Homo sapiens: one gene and its partner. The protein of the gene in region 2 purifies or fractionates together with the protein of the main gene of each other region. This does not show direct contact. Each region holds a gene or a part of one and is shown on either strand. Other genes may lie near its edges.

What was found. Proteins that work in one complex are often made in the same cells at the same time.
Region 1: the proteins of STYXL1 (region 2) and IDI1 purify together in Homo sapiens (affinity purification with mass spectrometry, with the first as the bait; one large-scale study listed by BioGRID). This does not show direct contact.

What each region holds. Positions count from the first base shown.
Region 1 is NC_000010.11:1,039,120-1,042,619, reverse strand, and holds the end of IDI1 (isopentenyl-diphosphate Delta-isomerase 1), read left to right. Parts: intron 1-1,115; coding exon 1,116-1,433; 3' UTR 1,434-3,201; downstream 3,202-3,500. UniProt on the Homo sapiens protein: Catalyzes the 1,3-allylic rearrangement of the homoallylic substrate isopentenyl (IPP) to its highly electrophilic allylic isomer, dimethylallyl diphosphate (DMAPP).
Region 2 is NC_000007.14:76,006,501-76,010,000, forward strand, and holds part of STYXL1 (serine/threonine/tyrosine-interacting-like protein 1), read right to left. Parts: intron 1-3,500.

The sequences.
Region 1 (3,500 bases), on a different chromosome or scaffold from region 2:
CCTACACAACCATACAAGCTGAAACCTAAACATACTATAAAAAGGTTTTTAATAAAATTTTTAAATTCAAATGTAGTTCTCTGCTTGGTAACCTCCGGAGTTATGAGTTAGCCCCACAAACCATCTTGAATAAAGATTATTTAAATTTTAATTTCTTAATATCACTTGTCAAAACTTAGCTCAATACGGGGATGGATTGATCTGTTAAGCACTATATAAGGTTGAATATTTCTATAATTGATCAAATCTAAGATGAGTATTTTCAAGTGTTACAGCTCTTGTAGAATTTAACTGACAGGTTTTCCAGTTCTCACCTAAAACTCCCCACCTACAAAAAAGGTGAAGATTTTCTGATGGAAACTCTTAGGAATATGAACCATAAATCTCATTGGTTTAATTGAAATCATTTTTTTTCTTGGAATTGTCCCCCTTAAATAAGACCTGGATAAATAAAGTATTTCTTATCTATATTTTCCAAAAAGCAATTTTAAAATATGAAAAAGAAAAATGTCGGGCCGGTCGTGGTGGCTCACGCCTGTAATCCCAGCACTTTGGGAGGCTGAGGCAGGTGGATCACGAGGTCAGGAGTTCGAGACCAGCCTGACCAACATGGTGAAACTCCGTCTCTACTAAAAATACAAAAACTAGCTGGGCATGGTGGGGCGGCACGTCTGTAATCCCAGCTACTCAGGAGGCTGAGGCAGGAGAATCGCTTGAACCTGGGAGGCGGAGGTTGCAGTGAGCTGAGATCACACCATTGCACTCCAGCTTGGGTGACAGCAAGACTCCGTCTCACAAAAAAAAAAAAAAGAAGAAAAAGAAGAATGTCACATTTCTAGTTTGAGTGACTGCCCCTTTTTTTAACATTAAAAAAAAAAAAACTTATCTGATCGGGAAAAAAACGCAAACACTTGAAACTAATGATGTAATCATTTTTCCATATATAATATTAAGATTTCCATATACCATTGATAGGAGATTAATGCTTTAACCAAGTTCTAATCCTAAAACTATACTGCTGTTCGAGATATCGCTGTAATACAGTGAGCTAATTTTAGATTTTTTTTGTTACGGTGGCCGATGTTTTAATTACTTTTTTTTTTTTAATGTCTTAGGTTCCTCCAGAAGAAATTAATTATTTAACACGAATTCACTACAAAGCTCAGTCTGATGGTATCTGGGGTGAACATGAAATTGATTACATTTTGTTGGTGAGGAAGAATGTAACTTTGAATCCAGATCCCAATGAGATTAAAAGCTATTGTTATGTGTCAAAGGAAGAACTAAAAGAACTTCTGAAAAAAGCAGCCAGTGGTGAAATTAAGATAACGCCATGGTTTAAAATTATTGCAGCGACTTTTCTCTTTAAATGGTGGGATAACTTAAATCATTTGAATCAGTTTGTTGACCATGAGAAAATATACAGAATGTGAATATGTAGGTAAATGATTACAGAAAAATTTATCTGCTTAACAAACTTAGAATGACTTTTTCCTTTTAAATTTAGTTCTATCATTAATTTATCATTAAATTTAGTTCTATCATTTGGTACTATCATTAATGTATTATATACACTGATACTTTAAAACTTGTGTGGAAAAAACTAACTTATAATTTTGTATCACACACCCTGGATATGTGTTCTGTTTCTAAGCGACATTTGTGAGAGATTATTGTAAAATGAGAGCGAGCAAATAAAACTTAATTTAATCTTTGCAGATACATACTTATGGGAAATTTGAACAAATGAGTGAAACTCTGTTTTTAGTAGGCTGTGATAAACATTTCCGGAGCACTTGCAGAGGACTTGCTATTTGCCAGGTGCTTTATGTATCATTAAATTTTTCTCATAGTTCAGAAAAATGTGCAAAGGAAACTATTGTCTCGCTCCTTCAAAACAGTCTTAATTAACTTTCATATTAGCAGATTAAACTAGCAGAGCAGGTTCAAGGGAAATTAAATGATATGGACCCTAATTTGTATCATTCTGAGTTGATTGTGTGGTTTATTCATTCTGGAAACATGTTGATACTTACAGTCAGCCACTGCTTTTGATAAGTGATATTGATTAGGTTGAATCTTCTTGTAAATAGTATTTACCAGTTAGCAAAGTCTGTGTTTTCAGAATTACAGTGAGCACAGAGGTGTTCATAAAATGGGAATTGAGTCCCACTCGGTAAGAGTTGCTTAAACTTGACACTGTTGACATTTGGGCTGGATAAAACCCCTGTGGTGGGGTCTGTGCTGTGCATTGCAGGATGGTGAGCAGCGTCCCTCTCATGTGACACCCACAGTTATGCCGGATGTTGCCAGATGCCCCTAGGGGACAGAGTCAACCCCCAACTGAGGACCACTGTCCTACAGAGTCAGGAAATATTGTAGGGAGAAAAAAATAACAACAACAAAGGCCTGTGTTAATGTTAAATAGATGAGATTATGGAATGTGTATATTAATGTTAAAAATTGTACCTTGATCAATGTACTTTTTATAAACTTGCCATAGATATCTCAGATTTGAAACCTCAAGACAGATTTATTATTCTTAAATGCTGTATGATAATGAAGAAAAATAAAAATTTATTTCTTGCAAAGTTAAATGTTTGTTAAATTCAATAGAATGACTCATTTATGGTTAACTTTGGGCAATTTATAATTTCAGACAAGACTGTTTAGCAAGTATTTTATTGAAAAGTAAAAAAAATTGCAATTTAATACTGTGTTTAGTTTGTTAAAATTTTGATACACTAATAGGATATTGCCTGTATAGTTTCCGTTGCATTTATAATATTGTTTCTAATTTTTTTAGTTTTATTTTCTAGGAAGTTTTAGGCTGAAAGCCACATATAATTAGTTATGTGATAACTATGAGTTGCCATGGCTACTGAATTGGACATGGGACCCTTAGACTGCTACCCAGCACCTTGTTAAGTACTTAGCAAGAGTTAGATACTACTGTTGTAATATTACTAGGATGCCATCCAGAAAATGTAAGGAATGTCTTTTGACCTGATAAACTCCTTAGAACTCCTTCATCTTTTATAAAGAGGAGTATCCCTCTCCTAGATATAGCTGCTTCTGACCCCAAAGGCAGATGTGTTGGTTTTCAACTAGAAAGCTAAATGGTACCTATAAATTTTTTTTTTCTTAAACTGTTTTAAACTCTTAATCTTCAAAATATATACTTCTTTGATTCTGGTCAAACCATTGCCAACTCCTTTAAGGACAAAGTAGAGGTGGCCTTCTAATAATTGCTGATTCTGTTTCCCTACCTATATTATCAAGAGAACAAGACCAAAACAGAAAATGGTATAATAGGAAGGAAGGCACATTTTCTTCTTACTTGGCCCTGGCACCTGGGGACAAGTCCAGGTCGTACCCGCAGTGCATCCCTGTGGGAACTGCCCTCCACCTGCTCCCTGGGGACACGTCCAGGTCGTACCCGCAGTGCGTCCCTGTGGGAACTGCCCTCCACCTGCTCCCTGGGGACAAGTCCAGGTCGT
Region 2 (3,500 bases):
AGCCTGTAATCCCAGCACTTTGGGAGGCTGAGGTGGGCGGATCACGAGGTCAGGAGATCGAGACCATCCTGGCTAACACGGTGAAACCTCGTCTCTTCTAAAAAATACAAAAAATTAGCCGGGCATGGTGGCGGGCACCTGTAATCCCAGCTACTTGGGAGGCTGAGGCAGGAGAATGGCATGAACCTGGGAGGCGGAGCTTGCAGTGAGCTGAGATTGTGCCACTGCACTCCAGCCTGGGCGACAGAATGAGACTCCGTCTCAAAAAAAAAAAAAAAAAAACAAAACAACAACAACAACAACAAAAAACTTTCGTTTATTTGAAACACAGACAAGGATTATCTCTACATTTCCCAAAGTGTGTTCTAAGAAACACTAGTCCCCCATAAGGCACTATGAGAAAAGGGTTCAGGGGTTCAGATAACCAAATGCAATCTGTGTGTTCCACATCCATATATTCAAGCAACCTTGGATGAAAAATATCCAGAAAAATAATTCATGGTTGCATCTGTACAGAACATGTACAGACTTTTTTTCTTGTCATTATTCCCTAAACGATACAGTATAACAATTATTTACATAGCATGTACATTGTATTAGGTATTATAAATAATCTAGAGATGATTTAAAGTATACACAAGAGGGGCCAGGTGAGGTGGCTCACATCTGTAACCCCATCACTTTGGGAGGCCGAGGCAGGCGCATCACCTGAGGTGAGGAGCTTGAGACCAACCTGGCCAACGAGTGAAACCCCATCTCCACGAAAAACACAAAAATTAGCCAGGCATGATGGTGCATGCCTGTAGTCCCAGCTACTCGGGAGGCTGAGGCAGGAGAATCACTTGATCCTGGGACGTGGAGGTTGCAGTGAGATGAGATCATGCCACTGCACCCCAGCCTGGCAACAGAGTGAGACTCTGTCTCAAATAAATAAAGTATACGAGACGATACGCTTAGGTTAGACGCAAATACTACACCATCTTGTATCAGGGAGTTGAAGATCCAAGGATTTGGTATCTATTGGGGGCCCTGGAACCAACCTCCATGGATACTGGACAACTGTACAAACGGACAGCTGTATCTATGATTCCTCTCTCGGAAACAACACGTACATTAGCAATCAAAGGTTCAAAGAAGTTGGGCACAGTGGCTGCTCATGCCTGTGATATCAGCACTTTGGGAGGCCAAGGTGGGAGGATCGCTTGAACCCAGGAGTTCAAGACCAGCCTGGGTAACACAGCAAGACCCTTGTCTCTACAAAAAATAAAAAATTCGCCAGGCATGGTGGCACATGGCTGTACTCCCGGCTACTCAGGAGGCTGAAGTGGGAGGATCCCACAGGAGTTTGAGGTTACAGAGAGTTATGACCGCATCACTGCACTCCAGCCTGTCTCTCAAAAAAAAAAAAAAAAAAATAGCCGGGCACAGTGCCTCATGCTTATAATCCCAGCACTTTGGGAGGCTGAGGTGGGTGGATCACTTGAGGTCAGGAGTTTGAGACCAGCCTGACCAACATGGTGAAACCCTGTCTCTACTAAAAATACAAAAATTAGCCAGGTGTGACAGTGCACGCCTGTAATCCCAGCTACTCGGGAGGCTGGGGCAGGAGAATCACTTGAACCCAGGAGGTGGAGCCTGCAGTGAGCCAAGATTGTGCCATTGCACTCCAGCCCGGGCAACAAGAGCAAAACTCCATCTCAAAAAAAAAAAAAAAAAAAAAAAAAAAAAAATCTCAAAGAAGCTCTGCAGTAGAGAAATCCACTCCAACTGGATAACTTGATGTTTCCATGAGGCTCTGATTAGAGACCACTTTCTCCATTATTACACCACAGAAAATGCTGACCTTTGCCAAAGATCAAAATCAGTTCCAAAAGTCCCCTGGCTCTAAGTCTGACTCAGAAATAACATTTTAAGGACCTCAGGCGTGTGGGTCCTTCAGAGCCACCTGAACTCAGCACATCTCACTCCCTTCCCCACGGCAGTGAACCCTCTGCAAGCCCACATCCTTCCCAAGCTACCAGCTTCGAAAGCCATTAGTAAAGAACAGACACCAAGCTGAGCCAGTTCTCCAGCCTGTGACACGGAGATGCATGACCCCCCACTGCCTGCGGGCAGGCCCAATTTACTCCAGCATGTGGGCTGCCCCTAACCCGGATGGACGCTCAGCTTGCTGGTGCCAAATGAAATCCCCCTTTCAATTTCCACTTAAAAATCTCGCTAAAAGGCCAGGCATGGTGGCTGATGCTTGTAATCCCAGCACTTTGGGAAGCTGAGGCAGGTGGATCACCTGAGGTCAGGAGTTCAAGACCAGCCTGGCCAACATAGTGAAACCCCATCTCTACTAAAAATATAAAAATTAGGCGTGGTGGCACACGCCTGTAATCTCAGCTACTCTGGAGGCTGAGGCAGGAGAATCACTTGAACCCAGGAGGTGGAGGTTGCAGTAAGCCCAGATTGTACCACTGTACTCCAGCCTGGGCAACAGAGATGCTATCTCAAAAAAAAACCAAAACAAAACAAAACAAAAAAAACCCCACAAAAATCCCATAGCAAATCTATCAACCCCTCTTCCTGCTGTTTTTAAACCAGCTTCCTTTTCTGCGGTTGTGTGGGTTTGGCTGGGAAGAGGGTGTGATGTGGATAAAAACACACTGTACTGTAGAATGTGTGTAAATGCTCAGTGACACAATGCAAACGAAACCAGTATCTCAAATGAATATGCCCGAACTGGGCACACTGCCTTCCCCCAAAACCACCTCCTTCTTCCCCCACCCCGCCCCCTCCCGAGTGTTCCCCAGAATGAACCACATCACAGCCCCCGTCACCCACGCCTAAAACCAGGGCATCATCCCAGCCCCCTCTCTCTCCTATGCCCTCATGTCTGATCGGTGCTACCTCCTAAATCTTTCTTTCTTCTTTTTTCTTTTTTGAGATGGAGTCTCACTCTGTCACCCAGGCTGGAGTGCAGTGGTGTGACTCAGCTCACTGCAACCTCCGCCTCCCGGGTTCAATTGATTTTCCTGCCTCAGCCTCCTGAGTAACTGGGATTACAGGCATGTGCCACCACACCCAGCTAATTTTTGTATTTTTAGTAGAGATGGGGTTTCACCATGTTGGCCAGAATGGTCTTGATCTCTTGACCTCGTGATCCGCCCGCCTTGGCCTCCCAAAATGCTGGGATTACAGGCGTGAGCCTCCAAGCCCAGCCTTTTAAAAAAATTTTTGTGTAAACAAGGTCTTACTATGTTGCCCAGGCTAGTCTCAAACTCCTGGACTCAAGTGATCCTTCCACCTCCTCTTTGACCTCCCAAAGTGCTAGGATTCCAAGCTTAAGCCACCACAGCTGGCCAGTCACCTACATTCTAAAGACAGCTGCAAACAAGTAACCCAATCCAACCCTCACAGCTACCCTAGCCACAACCCTGCGCCTTCTTCCCAATGTGACTAGACTAGGAGCAAAGGCAAGTTTCAGGAATATGCAACTGTCAAAACGGACCATA